Linked DNA regions of Homo sapiens: region 1 is linked to region 2. The links come from fine-mapping of genetic effects on gene expression. A gene starts in region 2. The other region holds a variant in brackets. All regions are shown on one strand. Distances are from middle to middle. Region 1 has its middle 9.0 kb from the start of C2CD4C. Region 2 holds the start of SPMAP2 (sperm microtubule associated protein 2).

Evidence for each region.
Region 1: its variant is fine-mapped to the expression of SPMAP2 in thyroid (GTEx, PIP above 0.99).

What each region holds. Positions count from the first base shown.
Region 1 is chr19:394,866-405,327 of GRCh38, reverse strand. No RefSeq gene overlaps it. Among named protein-coding and RNA genes, the nearest start is that of C2CD4C, 9.0 kb to the left of the region's middle. RefSeq lists an enhancer at 6,143-7,342. The variant G/A (reference allele first, on the strand shown) is at 3,898.
Region 2 is chr19:370,518-380,979 of GRCh38, reverse strand. It overlaps SPMAP2 (sperm microtubule associated protein 2), which reads left to right and starts at 4,954. Exons shown (of 8, transcript NM_016585.5): 1 at 4,954-5,317; 2 at 6,559-6,681; 3 at 6,969-7,040; 4 at 7,449-7,510; 5 at 8,280-8,349; 6 at 9,658-9,775. The coding sequence starts at 5,010.

The DNA.
Region 1 (10,462 bases), 24 kb before region 2:
CATTCTCCTGCCCCGGGTGGAGGCAGGCGGGGGCAGGAGCCCAGCCCCTGATAAACCACCTCCCTTGGAGCGGCAGGTCTGGGTTCTGCTTCACGGTTCCAGCTCTTGACTACATGGATGTCAGGAAACAGGACTCGGACCCCACACGGTCCCTACAGGGTGGGTCCCGCCTCCCCTCAGAACCTTCAGACAGGACCCTGTCTCCACAGACCCCCTCTAGACACAGCCCCGTATCCCCCTCACACCCCTCAGGGCAGGACCCCGTTCCCCCCACACCCCTCAGGGCAGGACCCCGTTCCCCTCACACCCCTCAGGGCAGGACCCCATCCCCCCTCCACACCCCTCAGGGCAGGACCCCGTTCCCCCCACACCCCTCAGGGCAGGACCCCGTTCCCCCCACACCCCTCAGGGCAGGACCCCGTCCCCCCCCCACACCCCTCGGGACAGGACCCCGTCCCCCCCTCACACCCCTCAGGGCAGGACCCCGTCCCCCCCTCACACCCCTCAGGGCAGGACCCCGTCCCCCCTCCACACCCCTCAGGGCAGGACCCCATCCCCCCTCCACACCCCTCAGGGCAGGACCCCGTTCCCCCCACACCCCTCAGGGCAGGACCCCGTTCCCCCCTCCACACCCCTCGGGGCAGGACCCGTCCCCCCCTCAGACCCCTCAGGGCAGGACCCCATCCCCCCTCCACACCCCTCAGGGCAGGACCCGTCTCCCCCTCAGACCCCTCAGGGCAGGACCCCGTCCCCCCCACACCCCTCAGGGCAGGACCCCGTCCCCCCCACACCCCTCAGGGCAGGACCCCGTCCCCCCCACACCCCTCAGGGCAGGACCCCGTGCCCCCCCCACACCCCTCAGGGCAGGACCCCGTCCCCCCCCCACACCCCTCAGGGCAGGACCCCGTCCCCCCCACACCCCTCAGGGCAGGACCCCGTCCCCCCCTCAGACCCCTCAGGGCAGGACCCCGTCCCCCCCCCACACCCCTCAGGGCAGGACCCCGTCCCCCCCACACCCCCTCAGGGCAGGACCCCGTCCCCCCCTCAGACCCCTCAGGACAGGACCCGTCCCCCCCACACCCCTCAGGGCAGGACCCCGTCCCCCCCACACCCCTCAGGGCAGGACCCCGTCCCCCCCCCACACCCCTCAGGGCAGGACCCCGTCCCCCCCACACCCCTCAGGGCAGGACCCCGTCCCCCCCACACCCCTCAGGGCAGGACCCCGTCCCCCCCTCAGACCCCTCGGGGCAGGACCCCGTCCCCCCCACACCCCTCAGGGCAGGACCCCGTCCCCCCCACACCCCTCAGGGCAGGACCCCGTCCCCCCCTCACACCCCTCGGGGCAGGACCCGTCCCTGTGCTCTCAGCCCAGGCTGGGCTGCTCTGTCTCTCCTGCTGCCCATGGGGTCCAGATGTCTCTGCCATCTCAAATCCACCAGGAGCTTTTGGGAATTGGGGTTCAGCGTAGCCCGGCCTCCTGACCGCGGCCTGGTGAGCCCCAGTCAGGGCCTGGGACGGGTTGACAGGGCTACGGGCGCCTTGTAGCCTCTTCAGCCCCAGCCACTCATCGCTAGGCTGCACGGGTGTGTGCGTGTGCGTGCCAGGTAGGTGCACACACGTCGCCATGTGCTTCCGCATGTGTGTGCAGTGTGACTGCGTGTGCCGTTACCGTGCTCATCTGTTGGGCGTATGTGACAGTGCCAGGTGAGCGCCTGCAGGCACTCGAGTATAGCTGCCTGTGTGCTGGCGTGTGCACGTGTAAGCACGTGAGCCGTGTATGCATGTGTGACCCTGTGTGCGCTTGTGTGTGCCTGTGTCGCTGCTGGTGTGCACTTGTGTGTGCGTTTGTGTGTGCTGGTGTCTGGGAGCTGCAGCTGCCCATGCCCTCCCCCCTCCACTTCCAAGTGGGCGTCATCCAGGGATTCTGCGCCTGCGTGGTGTCTCGCCCTGCCTCAGGTCTTGGCCCACTGCCCTTCAGGTCAGCCCCCACCCCGGGGGAGTCAGATGCCCTTGTTCCCTCCTGGCTGTGGCCGTTTGCTGCCTTGTGATGTTGATCCTGAGCAGAACGAATCTACTGTTTGCACCTCCAGCATCCCTGGCGCCACAGAGCGCTCGGCCCCAGTGGGTGCTGTGCGGTGAAGGAGGCAGGCACACCTGCCAGCAGTCTCTCCTTTCAGACTGGCGGCCATCCTGAGTCTCCCGACCCTCAGGAAGGCCATGGGCACCACAAGCGGGGGGCACCCCGTTTGGTGCAAATTACAAAAAGATGCCCCTTCTTCAGAGGGGAGCCATCATAGGGAACAACAGATGAAGAGTCAGAAGCCTGGAGACATTGCGGACACCTGGATCCAGCTATGCCTGAAGTCCATAACTGCGCACCATTTCAGCTCAGAGGGTGGGCCGGTAAAGTGCCTTGTTTGCTCAAGCCGGCTTGTTTCAGTTTTTTTGTTTTGTTTTGTTTGTTTGTTTTTTGGAGACGGAGTCTTGCTGTGTCGCCCAGGCTGGAGTACAGAGGTGCAGTCTCGGCTCACTGTAGCCTCTTCTTCCAGGGTTCAAGCGATTCTCCTGCCCCAGCCTCCCAAATAGCTGAGATTACAGGCGCCCGCCACCACACCCAGCTAGTTTTTTGTATTTTTAGTAGAGACGGGGTTTCACCAAGTTGGCCAGGCTCGTCTCAAATTCCTGACCTCAGGTGATACGCCTGCCTCGGCCTCCCAAAGTGCTGGGATTACAGGCGTCAGCCACCACGTCCGGCTGATTCATTTTTTAAGGTGACAGAACACTGATCCAGTGGGTCTCTCCCATCCGAGGAGGAGGAGTAACACCTTCCCAGGGCCCCTGCCTTGCGGCCTGTCCTCTCTGGGGCCTTGAACCTCTAACCCTGACGTGTGTGGGGAGCCGCAGGGTGAGTTTCAAGCCCCACCTTCCACGTGGGGTGTGGCCCGGGGCAGTGCGTGGCTTCTCTGGGTCTCAGGCTCCCGAGGCCGAAGGCTCTGTCTGTGATGAGCCCTGGCGGCTTGTGTGCAGTAGAGCTCAATCCACAGGCTCGCCGGGCGGAAGCCGGCACAAAATAGCGACGATAATTAATATAATCACATCAGGGCCATAATTACAGGCGGCCTCAGACCCACCCAGGCGGGGGCTCCCTCGGCCTCTCTCTGCGGCACCCACCGCCCCAGTGCCGGATTCGATTAAGCTTTTGTTTTCTTCTCAGCTCCTGGGGGTGGGAGGGAGGGGCTGCCCACGGCCAGTTCCGCTGACAGGAGGAGAAAAATGACTTCAATAAAAAGGAGGAGGCGGACGCCGACCCGCACACATGCTCCTCCCACGAGGGCGGGCCATTCCCGCGGGCCGGCGCCTGAGCCTCAGTTTACCCTACTGTACAGTGACGTGGTCCCAGAGCCTCTCTCCAGGGTCACACGCAGGGCAGGGCCTGTTGATTAAGCGCATCGTGGGTGGGTGGGCGGGAGGACCCGCTGAATCCTCAGCAAGACGCTGCCTACTGCCATCCACAGATGGAAACACCGAGGCACAGAAGGCAAAGGGGCCTGCGCACACCTCCCAGCTGACAGGACAGGAATTCGGACCAGGGCTGGACCCACGCTGCCCTTCCTGGGTGGGACTGGACACCTGCTTGCATGGCCGGCCCCTGCCATCTGGCAGAGAGGGCCCCAGGGAGCTGTGCTCTGCCAGCCATGGGTCAGAATCCTGACAAGTCCCTCCGTTCTCTGTGACTCGGTTTCCTCTGCAGCACCCTGTACCCTCCCTGCCTGCTGGTGGGGCTGGAGTGGGCACGGACCCAGCACCCGTGGCACCCAGTCCTGGTCACCGGCTGAGCCCTGCTGCGGTGCCACGGATGAGACCCGCACCTTCCCCCGTGGGGTGAGGAATCCTCTC[G/A]TGCGGGGTGAGGTCTGGGCTTTGCCTTGGCTTTGGGAGGTGATTTCTGCCCTGCCTGAGGGGAGCGTCTTGGTCTGGGGTAGGGAGGGTCACACCAGCAAGACCAACCGTGGGACTTGGGAGCGCCTTGGGTCTCACAGCGTCAGACACCCTTGGAGTTCGAGGGCAACCCCGTGGCAAGCAATCAGTCAATCAAGCCCCCACGAGGGATCCCTCGCAGAGCTCTGGGCGCCTAGGCTGCCGTGCCCTTTCCTGGTGGTCCGTGCGCCCTGTGAGTGAGCAGTTCCCGGCTTCCCCGGACAGGACCACGGGGCTTCTCCGGGACGCTGCCTCATGTGCTCTTCCCCAGCCCACGGCACCTGCACCCCGGCACTGTGACAAACCCTACCTGTGACGAGGACAGCTTGCTGGGAGTTCCGTGCGTCCTCGCAAATCATCAAGCGTGAGGGTGAGCCTGGGAACCCCTGGAAGAGTGAGGGTGAGCCTGGGAACCCCTGGAAGAGTGAGGGTGGGCCTGGGGACCCCTGGAAGAGTGAGGGTGGGCCTGGGAACCCTGGAAGAGTGAGGGTGGGCCTGGGAACCCTGGAAGAGTGAGGGTGGGCCTGGGAACCGCTGGAAGAGTGAGGGTGGGCCTGGGGACCCCTGGAAGAGTGAGGGTGGGCCTGGGGACCCCTGGAAGAGTGAGGGTGGGCCTGGGAACCCTGGAAGAGTGAGGGTGGGCCTGGGAACCCCTGCAAGAGTGAGGGTGGGCCTGGGAACCCCTGCAAGAGTGAGGGTGGGCCTGGGAACCCTGGAAGAGTGAGGGTGGGCCTGGGAACCCTGGAAGAGTGAGGGTGGGCCTGGGAACCCTGGAAGAGTGAGGGTGGGCCTGGGGACCCCTGGAAGAGTGAGGGTGGGCCTGGGGACCCCTGGAAGAGTGAGGGTGGGCCTGGGGACCCCTGGAAGAGTGAGGGTGGGCCTGGGAACCCCTGCAAGAGTGAGGGTGGGCCTGGGAACCCCTGGAAGAGTGAGGGTGGGCCTGGGGACCCCTGGAAGAGTGAGGGTGGGCCTGGGAACCCTGGAAGAGTGAGGGTGGGCCTGGGAACCCTGGAAGAGTGAGGGTGGGCCTGGGGACCCCTGGAAGAGTGAGGGTGGGCCTGGGGACCCCTGGAAGAGTGAGGGTGGGCCTGGGGACCCCTGGAAGAGTGAGGGTGGGCCTGGGAACCCCTGCAAGAGTGAGGGTGGGCCTGGGAACCCCTGGAAGAGTGAGGGTGGGCCTGGGGACCCCTGGAAGAGTGAGGGTGGGCCTGGGAACCCTGGAAGAGTGAGGGTGGGCCTGGGAACCCTGGAAGAGTGAGGGTGGGCCTGGGAACCCTGGAAGAGTGAGGGTGGGCCTGGGAACCCTGGAAGAGTGAGGGTGGGCCTGGGAACCCTGGAAGAGTGAGGGTGGGCCTGGGAACCCTGGAAGAGTGAGGGTGGGCCTGGGGACCCCTGGAAGAGTGAGGGTGGGCCTGGGGACCCCTGGAAGAGTGAGGGTGGGCCTGGGGACCCCTGGAAGAGTGAGGGTGGGCCTGGGAACCCCTGCAAGAGTGAGGGTGGGCCTGGGAACCCCTGGAAGAGTGAGGGTGGGCCTGGGGACCCCTGGAAGAGTGAGGGTGGGCCTGGGAACCCTGGAAGAGTGAGAGTGGGCCTGGGAACCCTGGAAGAGTGAGGGTGGGCCTGGGAACCCTGGAAGAGTGAGGGTGGGCCTGGGGACCCCTGCAAGAGTGAGGGTGGGCCTGGGAACCCCTGGGCTGCCGTTGGGGCTGGAACGGGGGCACTGTTGTTGGGACACTGCCCTCTGACCTTTCAGCGTGGTTCACTCCAATCCCCGGGCCACAGAGTCCTCGTGGCCTCCCTGGGAGTGTGCACCTGCCCGGCCGTGGAGACACATGACCCTTGCCCCCAAGCTCCCCTCTCACCTCCCTAACCCCTTTGCCTGTGGCCCAGGCGGCTCAGAGGCACCCCCCCGCCCACCAGCCACTGTGTCCCCACCCTCCCCTCCCACCTGGGCTCCCCCAGCCAAGCCACAGAATGCTCCTTCCTCATCTCCCAAAGTCACGGGGACAGCTCAGATCAAGGACTGCAGCTCCCACACTGCCAGCCCCTCCCCCTCTCTGAGCCTCAGTTTCCTCCTGTGTAAGTGAGGTGCCCAGTGCACACTGCCCTCTAGGCTTCAGGTGATGGCAACATTGAGCTTTCAAAGCACTCACGCATAAACCTCATTCAGACCACGGGCCACTGTAGGTCAAAGGTGCGTCCGAGTGTTTACTAAGGAACGGCAGGACTGGACTGAGTTTTATACGCAGCAGGAGGAAGGAGGCACCTGCCGCTCAGGGACAAAACTCATCCGCATTTGTCAATCCCAAGCAGCGTCCAACCCCAGAGCCAGGACACTGGCAAGAGTGGAGGGAAGCGTCCACAAAGTGACCCCCGGGTGGCCGGGCTGGTCGAGGCTCTGGAATACAACTGATCCTCTGGGTGATTCGGCCCCTCGGGGACACGGGGCAACGTCTGGGGCTTCTGTGGTTGTCACGACTAGGGGAGCTCCTGGTGTGGAGTGGGCGGAGGCCAGGGACACTGCTCAGCACCCAGCAGTGCCCAGGACGGCCCCACCCCAGGGAATGATCAGCTCTGAGGCCCACCGTGCCGAGGGTCCAGGATCCAAAGAGCAGGCAGTGATGTTTTTACCCCTTTCCAAGTTCTGGATAATTTTCCCAAACCTGAGGATGAAACGAGAGAAGGCACATAAGCTGCCTAGCAAGGTGACTGCACATGGTGAGGGGTCTCACGTGTCGTCTGCACGCGGTGAGGGTCTCACGTGTCGTCTGCACGCGGTGAGGGTCACACGTGTCGTCTGCACGCGGTGAGGGTCACACGTGTCGTCTGCACGCGGTGAGGGGTCACGCGTCGTCTGCACGCGGTGAGGGGTCATGCGTGTTGGCTGTTCCCCTTTCCTTTGGCAAATGTGGACTGAGTGCTGCTGTGCCTTATGCTCGTGTCGGGGATACCACAGCTCCAGGGTGTCCCTGACATGATGTTCCCGGCCCTGCGCTCTCCAGAGCTGAGACTCACCCCATGGAGCAGTGGCCACTGGGCCTGTCCCCTCCAGACTGCTCCGCGCAATACAAAGTGGCAGTGGGTAGCTTCCAAACCCAGGCCATGAAAAGGAGGTGGCCCAGGGAGGCAGGTGCAGCTGGCAGCCCAGGTGGGCCCCAGCCTCCTGGTCTTAGAGCAGACTCCCAGATGTCATGGAGCAGGGGCACCATCCCTGGTCTGCCCGAGTTCCTTCCTGACTGAGGCTTTCTCATCGACAAGCATTGGGGTGGGTGCCTAGTCTGAGTCCTGCAAGGCTTGCCCTTGGAGGACTTCCTGGAAGAGGAGGCCAGAGGACAAAAGGGTTGTGAAGCCCCAGAGCAGAAAGGACTCAGCCCCAAAATTCCAAGGAGGCCTGTGGGTCACAGGACTGTAAGAGGAGTGTGGACTTTATCCTGTGGGCAAAGGGCTTGGATGAACGTTTTAGGATGACCTGAACTGTCTGGAAGGAAGGGGCATGGCCGGGCAGCACAGAAGCCAAGGGGAGGGCAGGGCACTGGTGCTGGGTCTGGATGGGCAAAGGCGGATGCCTGGCACCAGGGTGAGCAGAGAGGAGTAAGACACATTTGGAAGAGACTGAGGCTGCAAATCTTCCAGGATGTGTGAGGACTAGGTGTTCAGGATGGTGGACGGGGGTGAGGGGGTGCGCCGGCCGAGTCCTCTCTGTCAGCGCGTTCACCTACCTGCAAGCCCAGGAGCCTCTGCCTTCCAAACGCACCGGGAACCTTCTCAGCAAGCAGGTGGAGCTGCTGAAGGCAGCAGCACGACACGTCTCTGCCACACTCAGTGGATCACGCGGGGCAGCCCAGGCAGGAGGAATTCAAGAGCAGCCGACATGAACCTACCCGCTGCCAGCAATGGAAGTCAGGATGGGGCCCCCGGGGCAGGGACCAGGAGGGACGAGGGGCCTCTGGGGGCCGTCACAGGTGGCGTTTTCATTGGAGTGGGGGCTGCTATGGTCAGTTTGTTTATAAATGTTCACTGAGCTCATCAGGATCAAGTATCCAGAACACATAAACTATGCATACAACTCAGCAACAAAATGACCAACAACCCCATTAAAAAATAGGCAAAAGACTTCAATGGGCATTTATTGAAGAAGACACACAGCTCGTTTACATCATTCGAAACGTAGAAACAGCCCAAATGTCCATCGGCAGAGAGAGATGAACCACCGTGCGGCATATTCGTAGGCTGGAATAGTAGTCAATCACAAAAAAAATGGAGCACGGCCTTGAAACATGACACTCAGTGAAAAAACTCAGGCCAAAAGGACGCATATTGTCTGCTTATATTTACATGAAATGTCAAATATAGCTAAATCCAGAGGATTTCTTTCTGAGATAAGAAGAATGGTTTGGGGAGCTACACATGGTGGCTTGTACCTACAATCCTAGCAACGTGAGAGGCTGAGGCAGGAGGATCCCTTGAGCCCAGGAATTGGAGGCTGCAGTGAGCTGTGAATATGCCACTGTACTCCAGCCTGGGCCAAAAAGCAAGACACTGACTATTTATTTATTTATTTATTTATTTATTGAGACGGAGTCTCGCTCTGTCCCCCAGGCTGGAGTGCAGTGGCACGATCTTGGCTCACTGCAAGCTCCGCTCCCGGGTTCACACCATTCTCCTGCCTCAGCCTCCCCAGTAGCTGGTACTGCAGGCGCCTGCCACCACGCCTGGCTAATTTTTTTTTGTATTTTTAGTAGAGACGGGGTTTCACTGTGTTAGCCAGGATGGTCTCGATCTCCTGACCTCGTGATCCGCCCGCCTCGGCCTCCCAAAGTGCTGGGATTACAGGCGTGAGCCACCATGCCCGGCCCGACAATTTATTTTAAAAAAATGTTTTGGAGCTTAATAGAAGTTATAGTTGCACAACATTGCGAAGGCACTAAAAGACCCTGAATTGGTCGTGTTAAAGCGGTTAATATTACTTAAGGTGCGGTGGCTCACGCCTGTAATCCCAGCACTGTGGGGGGCCGAGACAGGCAGATCACAAGATCAGGAGATCGAGACCATCCTGGCTAACACGGTGAAACCCCCTCTCTACTAAAATTACAAAAAATTTGCCAGGCGTGGTGGCGGGCGCCTGTAATCCCAGCTACGTGGGAAGCTGAGGCAGGAGAATGGCATGAACCTGGGAGGCAGAGCTTGCAGTGAGCCGAGATCACACCACTGCACTCCAGACTGGGCGACAGAGCGAGACTCCGTCTCAAAAAAAAAAAAAAAAGGGAGTCTCAAAAAAAAAAAAAAAGGTGTCACCGAATGCTCTCACTTGGTGCCCAATCACCCATTCCATTCATCCTTCCCGTCGTCCTTCCCATCAACCTTCTCCATTCATCCTTCCCATCGTCCTTCTCCATTCATCCTTCCCATCATACTTCTCCATTCATCCTTCCCATCATCCTTCCCATTGTCCTTCCCATCATCCTTCCCATCGTCCTTCTCCATTCATCCTTCCTGTCGTCCTTCTCCATTCATCCTTCACATCATCCTTCTCCATTCATCCTTCCCATCATCCTTCTCCATTCATCCTTCCCATCGTCCTTCTCTATTCATCCTTCCCATCGTCCTTCTCCATTCATCCTTCCCATCGTCCTTCTCCATCACCCTTCTCCATCATCCTCCATTATCCTTCCCATCATCCTTCCCATCATCCTTCCCATCAACCTTCCCATCAACCTTCCCCATCATCCTTCCCATCATCCTTCCCCATCATCCTTCCCATCATCCTTCCCATCGTCCTTCTCCATAATTCTTCCCATCATCCTTCCCCATCACCCTTCTCCATCATCCTCCATCATCCTTCCCCATCATCCTTCCCATCATCCTTCCCATCATCCTTCCCCATCATCCTTCCCCATCATCTTTCCCATTATCCTTCCCATCATCCTTCCCATCAACCTTCCCCATCATCCTTCTCCATCATCCTTCCCATCATCCTTCCCCATCATCCTTCCCCATCATCTTTCCCATTATCCTTCCCATCATCCTTCCCATCAACCTTCCCCATCATCCTTCTCCATCATCCTTCCCATCATCCTTCCCCATCATCCTTCCCCATCATCTTTCCCATTATCCTTCCCATCATCCTTCCCATCAACCTTCCCCATCATCCTTCTCCATCATCCTTCCCATCATCTTTCCCCATCATCCTTCCCATCATCTTTCCCCATCATCCTTCCCATCATCCTTCCCATCATCCTTCTCCATCATCCCTCCCATCATCCTTCTCCATCATCCTTCCCCATCATCCTTCCCATCATCTTTCCCCATCATCCTTCCCATTATCTTTCCCCATCATCCTTCTCCGTCATCCTTCTCCATCATCCTTCCCATCCTTCCCATCATCCTTCTCAATCATCCTTCCCCATCATCCTTCCCATCATCTTTCCCCATCATCCTTCCCATCATCTTTCCCCATCATCCTTCTCCATCATCCTTCCCATCCTTC
Region 2 (10,462 bases):
ACCACGATTCTGCTCCACCTCCTACATCTGCTCATCACCACGGTTCTGCCCCACCCCCTACATCTGCTCATCACCACGGTTCTGCTCCACCTCCTACATCTGCTTATCAATCACCACGGTTCTGCTCCACCTCCTACATCTGCTCATCAATCACCACGGTTCTGCCCCACGTCCTACATCTGCTCATCACCAGGGTTCTGCTCTTTTTTTTTTTTTTTGAGAGGAGTCTCACTCTGTAACCCAGGCCGCAGTGCAGTGGCAGGATCTTGGCTCACTGCAAACTCCGCCTCCTGGGTTCAAGTCATTCTCCTGCCTCAGCCTCCTAAGTAGCTGAGATTACAGACGCCCGCCACCACGCCCAGCTAAGTTTTTGTATTTTTAGTAGAGACGGGGTTCACCATGCTGGCCAGGATGGTCTCTATCTCTTGGCGTTGTGATCCGCCTGCCTTGGCCTCCCAAAGTGCTGGGATTACAGGCGTGAGTCACCGCACCCAGCCAGCACTCATCTATTTTCTTATTCATTTATAGGAGCTATTTATTCATGGTGGGTACTAATCAATTATAGATGTGACAGATGCTGCATTCCCATTCGTGGCTTCTGTTTCCACTTTTTTGAGGAGTCCTGAACATGAGGCTTCAGTTTAATATGGCCGACTTATTGGTCGTGTATGATTAGCACTCTACATGTCTTGTTAAAAAAATTACTCCCTACATGGAGCGCAAAAGCATGGTCACATTCATTTTTTTCTGTAAGTTTTGAAGTTGTGTTTCAGCTTTCACGTATCCACTGAGGGCTGTTGTGTGTGGTATGAGGTAGGTGTCACAGAAGGAATAGTGATCCCCAACGGTGTCCACATCCTCGTCCCTGGAACCTGGTGTGAAACTGGTGATATGGATGGGAGTTACCCAACGCAACAGTCGAGAGACCAGGTAAAAAGCATTCAGATGCACGCGCCTGCCCAGGACGGCGTCACAGGCCAGCGCCCGAAACCGCCTGCCGTGACCCTAAAGCCAATTTGACCTGGGAGCTGTGGAGGTGACCTCAGCTAAATGAAGACGCCTTCTGCCGCCACCTCCCTCCCAGTCACAGCTCACCAGGTCCCTTCTGCCCCCACCTCCCTCCCAGTCACAGCTCACCAGCTCCCAAAGCTTCCAGTTCTTGCGAGCTTTCTTTCGAAATGATTCGCAACATTGTTCCTTCTAGTAAAAGCCCCAACCTGCTGCAGATATACCGAAGACCTCCCGGTCTGTGTACAGGCCCGAAATTGCAATTCTGTTTTTTTTGGTTTTTTTTTGTTTGTTTTTTGTTTTGAGACGGAGTCTCGCCCTGTCGCCCAGGCTGGGGTGCAGAGTGGCGTGATCTCGGCTCACTGCAACCTCCACCTCCCAGATTCACACCATTCTCCTGCCTCAGCCTCCCGAGTAGCTGGGACTACAGGCGCCCGCCACCACGCCCGGCTAATTTTTGTATTTTTAGTAGAGACGGGGTTTCACCGTGTTAGCCAGGATGGTCTCGATCTCCTGACGTCATGATCCGCTCGCCTCAGCCTCCCAAAGTGCTGGGATGACAGGCATGAGCCACCGCGCCAGGTCTCAATTCTGTTTTTATGTATTTTCCCAAACAAAATGTCTTACGTAAAAATGCCTCTCTATGTGCTCGTTTGAGTTTGACACTGGGAGCATGTTATTTTATGTGGCAAAATGGACTTCGCAGGTGGGACTGGGGTTGCAGACGTGGAGGGTCAGAGCACCTGGCTTATCCAGGCTGACCTTCAATCACCTGTTTCCGTAATAACCAAACGGGTTTCCCAGCCCTGCTCAGAGATGAGTGCCAGTGGAGCATCCATGTGAGGGGGCTTGACTGGCCGTTGCTGGCTTTGAAAATGGAGCGAGGGGCCAGGACTGAGAAGAGCGGTGGCCTCTGGGTGCTGGGGGGCCCCCAGCTGACACACACAGCAACGCTGGGAAGGGCCCCCGGCTGACACACACAGCAAGAACGCAGATCTCAGTCCTACGACCACAAGGCACTGAATTCTGTGGCCACCAAATGAGCAGGAGACGGGCCTTCCTCTGAAGGCTGCAGGAACCAGCCCTGCCCACACCGTGGCTTGAGTCCAGTGAGATCCATGTTGGGCTTCTGAGCCCAGGGCGGCCAGGTAATCGCTCAGTGTTGCTGGAGCCTCTGCTTGTGATATGTGTTAAGGCGGCCACAGCAGAGAGGAACACAGTAGGGACCTGGTTTATTTTCTGCCAGGCGGACGCCCCAGGTCCGGGCAGTCAGAACCCCACACATCCCACAGCCCGGTCCCCGTCCCCCTCTATTTTCTGCTCAAAGCAACATCACACAACATTCAGAAATCATGCACTTCCTTGGCTGTGAACGTCTTGCTTTTCCACAGGATGTTGGAGCAGACGTGGACCCTCCAACTCTCCCCCGAGTGCGGGCAGAGTTCTGCTGTCCCCGCGCGCTCCTGAGCTCCTCCGGCTCCTGCCGTAGAGACATCCAGCCCTGACTCCCCCGAGAAGGTGCCGGGTGCAGCTCCACCAGCCGCGTGGCCCTGGGAGCTTCCCCATGACCCTGGAGCGCTCATCTGCCTCTCCTCTCCACAACGGGCTGCCATGAGGGCTAAACGCGCTGCAGCCTGGGTGCTGCCTGGGTGCTGAGAGCCGGAGGCTGCCAGACCCCCAACCGCGCCTCCCTGGAGTAGGGTTAGGGAGCAGCCTCGGGGTGCGGCGCCCTGCTCTGAACGAGGTCTCCTGGAAACACTGCAGTGGCCACAGGCCCTCCAGCGGCAACAATGCCTAACTCATCTCTTTGTGAAAGGCACCCGCAGATCTTGATCCAGTTTAACTTAAGAGAGAAAAGTAAATCATTGAGTGCAAGGTAAGGGTTTACGAGACTTCCGGCCAAGAAAGGGGATTTTCCCATGGCCTCCTTGATGGGACCGGATCCTCCCCGGGGCCCTTCTGCCTGGAGTCCTCCGAGAGACCCCTTTCCTGACAGAGGTGGTGGTGAGGCTGCGTCTGGGAGCAGAGCATCAGGGAGATGGGATGGGAGCTGGAGAGGGCTTTGTGTGTGTCGATGAACTGGGTCTCTTGCGTGCCGAGTGGTCACCATGCCCGGAGGGCCGGCCCCACGCTGGTGGCAGGGGTGAGGGACAGAGCAGTCCTCGGGGTGGGCTAGCACTGGGTGGGGGTAGGGGTGGGGGTCCTAGGCCTGGGAGCCCAGAAAGGGGAGGGATGGTCAGGGACTCTCCCTGCGTGGGGGACCGACAGGCTTGAGTCTTCAATGATGAGTAGAAAACCACCAAGCACAGAAGGGTGAAAGGCTGGGTGGGGGCACACAGCACAGAGGGGGAGAGGCTGGGTGGGGCACAGAGGGGGAGAGGCTGGGTGGGGCACAGAGGGGGAGAGGCTGGGTGGGGCACAGAGGGGGAGAGGCTGGGTGGGGCACAGAGGGGGAGAGGCTGGGTGGGGGCACAGAGGGGGAGAGGCTGGGTGGGGGCACAGAGGGGGAGAGGCTGGGTGGGGCACAGAGGGGGAGAGGCTGGGTGGGGCACAGGGGGGAGAGGCTGGGTGGGGCACAGAGGGGGAGAGGCTGGGTGGGGCACAGAGGGGGAGAGGCTGGGTGGGGCACAGGGGGGAGAGGCTGGGTGGGGGCACAGAGGGGGAGAGGCTGGGTGGGGCACAGGGGGGGGAGAGGCTGGGTGGGGCACAGAGGGGGAGAGGCTGGGTGGGGCACAGAGGGGGAGAGGCTGGGTGGGGCACAGGGGGGAGAGGCTGGGTGGGGCACAGAGGGGGAGAGGCTGGGTGGGGCACAGAGGGGGAGAGGCTGGGTGGGGGCACAGAGGGGGAGAGGCTGGGTGGGGCACAGGGGGGAGAGGCTGGGTGGGGCACAGGGGGGAGAGGCTGGGTGGGGCACAGAGGGGGAGAGGCTGGGTGGGGCACAGAGGGGGAGAGGCTGGGTGGGGGCACAGAGGGGGAGAGGCTGGGTGGGGCACAGGGGGGAGAGGCTGGGTGGGGCACACGGGGGAGAGGCTGGGTGGGGCACAGAGGGGGAGAGGCTGGGTGGGGCACAGAGGGGGAGAGGCTGGGTGGGGGCACAGAGGGGGAGAGGCTGGGTGGAGGCACGGGGGGGGAGAGGCTGGGTGGGGCACGGAGGGGGAGAGGCTGGGTGGGGCACGGAGGGGGAGAGGCTGGGTGGGGGCACAGAGGGGGAGAGGCTGGGTGGGGCACAGAGGGGGAGAGGCTGGGTGGGGCACACAGGGGGAGAGGCTGGGTGGGGCACAGAGGGGGAGAGGCTGGAAATTCAGCTCCTTTGGCGACGTACGAGGAATTCCTGAAGGCAGCAGCCTGGGGAATACTCCAGTTATAACCATTATTTTGTTGTGAGGGTTGGAACAGCCTATTTTGAAGTTATTTCTCATGAGAGGTTGGGGCTGGAAGCGTCTGTATCACCTAGGGTGCAGTTTTAGCTGCTAGGAATTGGAAACCAAGCCAAAACGACTTAGTACTAAGGAAACTTACTGTTTCAAGTAACAAGAAGCCTGGACACAGAGTGGATTCCAAGGCTGCTAAGTTCAGAGGCTCGACAGCCACATCAAAGGCCCACCTTTCAGTTCATCTGCCCTCAGATGGCAGGCCTCATGGTCACAAGAAGGCTGCCTGGGCTCTGGACATTACCGACGGGCCCCACAGGGACAGGAACAGGAGACGCGGTCTCTTCCTTGTGTCTCCTTTTGAGAGAGGGAATCCATAGCTAGATGCCCCTGCAGGTTCCCGTCAGGTCTCCTTCCTAAACCAATCCTGGGAGGTCCTGAGTGAGCCGTGACCACCAGGACTGAGTCCTGATCCCAGCGCAAGCCCAGGTGACCAGCATTGGAGACGGCGCACGGGTTAGAATGTGGACCGTGGGGAATGTGACGGACGCTCTCCTGTTGCCGCGGCCACCACAGACACATTTGGGTGCCGGGAGAGTGAGGCCGCGGGGGCTGGGAAGGGACCGGTGTATGGGGGACAGCAGGCGAAGGTCACTCGGGAACCAGCCCAGCTCTGAGGCTGCGGGCAGGTCGGAAAGGGAGCAGGACGGCGACCCCCGTGGCCTCCAGAGCTCTGTGTACGAGAGCCGGCGGGTCACAGACCCCGAACGCCAGGACCTGGACAATGCAGAGCTGGGACCAGAAGACCCAGAAGAGGAGCTTCCCCCCGAGGAGGTGGCCGGGGAGGAGTTCCCGGAGACCCTGGATCCCAAAGAGGCACTTTCTGAGTTGGAGAGAGTCCTGGACAAGGACTTGGAAGAGGACATTCCTGAAATCAGGTGGGCACCGGGGAACGGGCCTGCCTGGGTGCGGTGGGGTAGGGCTCAGCCCCTGGCAGTGGGGGGAGGGCAGCAGCCCCCTGGGCGGGCGAAAGGGTCGTAACCGGCCACCGGCCTGGCTCGCTGCTCCCGAGGGGCCCGGCCCTGCCGAGTCAGCCTAGGTGTGGGCTTGGTCGGTTGGCGGCCAGCACCCCTCACTGGGCCCTGAGGCAGACACCAGCAGACGCTCCCCTATCTGGTGGCAGGAGGAGGAGTAAACAGCGCTGAGTTTGGAGTCAGGCAGACTGAGTTCAGGTGCCCAGAGTTCAGAGTTTAGCGAGTGATGGCCTCAAGTCAGACAGAGAGAATAAGAAATGGGAAAAAAAAAGCCTCCCAACTCAAAAGTTGAAACCATTCTAAGCACCACACGTGGCTAAAAGGTTTTAAATGGTCGGGAGGAACACGTTCTGGGTGAACTGACGCTTCGGCCAATCAGCACTGGGGGCGCTGATTTTGGGCAGTTGCTGGAGTGTCCCCAGCAAGGCGCGCACTCTACATACCTCTGGGACTCGGCTCCCGTCCTCCCTGCAGCGTGGTCCCTGCACGTGCCCGACCTGCCCCCTTCTCACCGTGGTTTCCGTGCCGCCCAGGGAGGTTTGCCGCCCAAGAACAAAGTGGCTGCCCTGCCCTCATGGGGCTCTGCCAACCTGCAGAGAAAACAGCAGGAGTGTGAGGGGATTCTGGGGAGAACGTGGGAGCCAGCAGCTGCATCAAGCAAGGACAGGGCAGATATCCTGGCATTTGGCATCTTCACCTGCTGCCTGTTTCCCTCCCACAGTCTGTGAGCTTTCTGGGAGGCAGGAGCCGCTCTCTTTAGAGGGTGGTTGCCCCTCTGGGGCCTGGCATACAGTAAGCACTTGACAGATGTCTGTGAGATGAGTAAACACTACCTTAGTACTCACCAAAACAGCCCCGCCAGGTGGGAGCTGGTCTCACCTCCAATTCACAGAGGAGGAAGCTGAGGACCAGGGGAGACAGGTGACCTGGACGGGTCTTCCATCCAGCGAGCAGTGGAGCTGCGGTTGGTCCAGGCCTTCGTGGTGCCAAAGTCCTCCCTCAGAGACCCCTCGAGGGAAAGGAGAGGCGGGTGGGCAGGGTGAGTGCAGACAAAAGGCGCTTGAGCAAGACCCACGCTTCTCTGGGCTCCCAAACGCATCGGGGCGGGAAAGCAGCTCCAACTTCAACGTGGAATTCTCCCAAAGCCGGCTGTCCATCAGCCAGAAGCTCCCCAGCACCACCATGACCAAAGCAAGGAAGAGGAGGAGGCGGAGGAGGCTCATGGAGCTGGCAGAGCCCAAGATAAACTGGCAAGTCCTGAAAGACAGGTGAGGACACGCCAGACCACGGCCTCGTAGGGGCAGCGTGGGCGGCTTTCTCTGCACCCTTCCCGGGCTCCTCCTGTCCCCACTGCTCGGCTCCCCTCCCCCAGCTGCCACCACATCCAGCAAACTTAGGGTAGGTGGGGTTGGCCAGTTAAGGAGGTGGCCAGACACTGGGAGTGGCTAGGGAACGGTGGCCCTCTGGGCGGTGGCCAAAGGAGAGTGAGGAGTTTGGGAGCAAACGGGAGACCCAGGGCAAGAGGCAGTGGGGCTCGGACCCTGTCTCCTCGCAGGAAGGGACGCTGTGGTAAGGGGTATGCCTGGATCTCCCCATGTAAGATGAGCTTGCACTTCTGTCTCTGCTGGTAAGTCCAGGGCTGTCTCCGCCGTGTGCCTATGCTGGGGGACACGTGTCAGGTTCCAGGGGACCCCTTCACTCCAGCCACCCTCCTCTCTCCAGGGAGGAGGATCAGGGAGGGCTCCTCAGATGTGGGGCTCTCCACCCTTGTGACCTGGGTCTGCTCCCAGGAGGTGGCCCTGGGCCCTCTTCTTAGCTATGCTTCTCCCCCAGCTACCTCCTTCTCTGGACATCAGCCTTGCTCACAATAATCCACGCGTCCCGCCGGCCCCCCCACTGTCCTTCTCTGGCCTACCCCCTCTCCCAGCAACTCCACACCCCACCTCGGCCACCCTCCTGGCAGAGACCCAGGCTTGTTTCCGGGCAGGGCCAGGGCTCTCTGCCTCCCTTGCCCTGAGCCGTCCGCTTATTCCAGGCCCTCTGTGTACTGGACCGAGCGGTTCCTTGAGGACACCACCCTCACCATCACAGTGCCCGGTAGGTGGAGCCCGTGCCTGCTGAGACCCCTGCCCCCGGCTGCCGGCCTCCAGGGAACCTGCCCCGCCCCATCTAGATACTTCTGGCCTCCCTTGCCCCATCTCCTCGGAGCCTCTGTCCTCCCCACTGGAGTCTGTCCCCTGAGGAGCTAGAGCTGAGACTGGTCCTGGGGGTGAGGGGCATGGGGAACACTCTCTAGGATAGGGCCAAATCGGGGCAAGAATTTACAAAAAGACCCTTTGCTTTCCCTTCCACAATGATTTCCATGCTTTTCTTGAGAGGAATTTGGTATTGAGGTATCATAGATACCTTCAAATGAGACACTTCGAGAGTTCCCCATAGAGGAGAATAACAGTCCAGTTCTCTCCTGTGCTGTTCTTGACTTTAGACCTACAGTCATCACTAGGCCCCTGGAAACCCCAGGCTTGTACTAACTTCAGAACAAAACCCATTTTCCCAGCCTGTGGGTCCCTGGATCTGTATTGAGCCCCGTTGAGGAGCCACGGTGCTGGGCTGCTGTTCCAGCCCTGCCACTCCCATCCGGTGTCCGAGAAAGGACCTTCAAGCCTCTGAGCCCATTGTCCCTAAATCAGGGACAGCAAATCTTCTCTCTGCAGGGTGTCTGGCCCCCAGTTGTCTCTGCCCACAGTTCTTCCAATTCAGCCTCCTGCCCAAGCTCATGAAAAGCTGAATTCCGCATGCAGAAGCCCCTGGGAACTGCAGGGTGTTGACACTGGGGTTCACTGACTCCGTTTCCCATTTTGCATAGCGGTGTCCCGCCGCGTGGAGGAACTGTCTCGGCCCAAGAGATTCTACCTGGAATATTACAACAACAACAGGTGGGGGAAGGAGGGCTGGGTGGCTACTCAGAAGGCAGAGTTTGGCAGAAATGCCTTATTCTCGCCTGACAGGATGCTGTGTGGGAAAGGGTCCAGGTCCTAGCCCTAGACAGCTGGTGTTCAGACGGGGCTGGCCTGCTTCCCAGCCCACATCCCCAGCAGGCTGCTTCCCAGTCCACATCCCCAGCAGGCTGCTTGGCCCCGTGCAACTGCATTGCCAGCTGTGGAATGGTGGTGGAGGGCACCCGTGAACGGGGATTTGCACAGCGCCTGACACAGTGCGTGCTCAGATGTTATCACCATTGTGACTGTATTTTGTTTACTCAAAAAAGGTGGAAATTCTAAGACACATTAGTATTTTATGTACAAAATTCTTTCTTACCACTTACAGCCCCTGTGCTTGTTAAAAGTGATCTTTAGTTATTTAGACACAACATATAATTACCCATCTTTTATGCAGCGTATGAAGGAAAGCACAGCTGAAGTAGACAGCGGAAGTGTGTCCAACTGTTTTGAACCACTTCTGACACAGACGTTGATGTGGGTGTCGCACACACTGTCCTCACGCCTCTGTGCACTTTTTAACGCCAAATCATACTGTGACCTGAAGACAATTTAAACTGTAATTAAACTTAACTCCTGTAGAAGCAGCAGTGCAGATCACGTGAACAGCACACACAGATGCAGCCAGATGTAGCCAGGACACTTCCGCCATCTGGCTGGCAGCACTCGTAAGCTGCATCCTAACCTCAGACCTGTTCAATGTGGAGACCTTGCCTTAGAATCAATGAAATGCGGCTTTATTTCCGAGCAGAGGCATAGCTGAGACCTGATTTCAGAAGGCACAGCCCCGGGAGCTCAGCTGTCCTTCGCTTTCCCCAGCTTTGCAACCTCAGGACAGACACTTTCATCCCTTGGGTCCAAGTGCTCACGCCAGGCTCTTGATGATGGGGGTGTGTAGAGAAGGCCTGGGAGGAGCTGCCGTCCCAGAAGGGAATGGAGAAGGCCTGGACCTGAGGGTGGACGTTGCACATTGAGCAGAGACAACCCTGGGAGATGGTAGCTCTGTACTTGAGAACTCTTAGAAATTCTTTACGAATCCCTGTTTGGAGACGCTTTCAAAACTCACCACTCTCCCAGGCTCTCTTAACCCCAGAAACAGAGGAGGAGCTGGGAAAGACAGACAGACACATATGGAGGAGCTGGGAAAGACAGACAGACACATACACACACACACACACACACACACACACACACACACCCCCACCCCCGGCCGAGCTGCTGGTCTAAAATGGGGACCTCCCCCAGGACGACTCCTGTCTGGCCCATTCCTCGGTCCTCCCTGGAATACAGAGCGTCGAGTCGCCTGAAGGAACTGGCCGCCCCGAAGATTCGTGATAACTTCTGGAGCATGCCCATGTCTGAGGTGGGTGCCCCGTGCCCCCCGCGACTCACCCCCGCCAGGCGGGCTGGGACCCGGCAGAGAGTGAAAGAGGCTTTGCGTTTGGGAGTCAGGGGAGGAGGAGAAGCTGCACAGGGCGGCTGCCTTTGTCTGGGAGCAGCTTTCTTTTGATCTCTCACTGTCTTCAGAGCCGCCCAGGGGTCATCCTTCCCTGCGCTTCAGTCCGGGTGGATCCCAAAGCTTCCAGCTCACACTCAGGAATTAGAACAGTCTTATCTCAGGTGTTCAGAAAGCGCTCATCTCTCGCCCCAGCTCAGGCCGGACTCCTGGCCACCGGCAACCACTGACCTCGCTCTACGCCCTGTACCTTTTGCTTTTCCGAAAGTCTGAACCCCGCAGCCTGCGGGCTTGACCCGGCTTCTGCCGCCCCCCGCCCTGCATCTGAGACTCTCGCGTGCGTCGGTAGTTTATTCCTTGTCGTCGCCGGTTCAATTCCAGAATTTGCCGATCCAGGCACCCACTGAAGGGTATTTGGGTGGCTTCCAGTTTAGGACTGTTACGATAAAACTGATGTGAATACGCCGGGCGCGGTGGCTCACGCCTGTCATCCCAGCACTTTGGAAGGCTGAGGCGGGTGGATCACGAGGTCAGCAGATCGAGACCATCCTGGCTAACATGGTGAAACCCTGTCTCTACTAAAAATACAAAAAA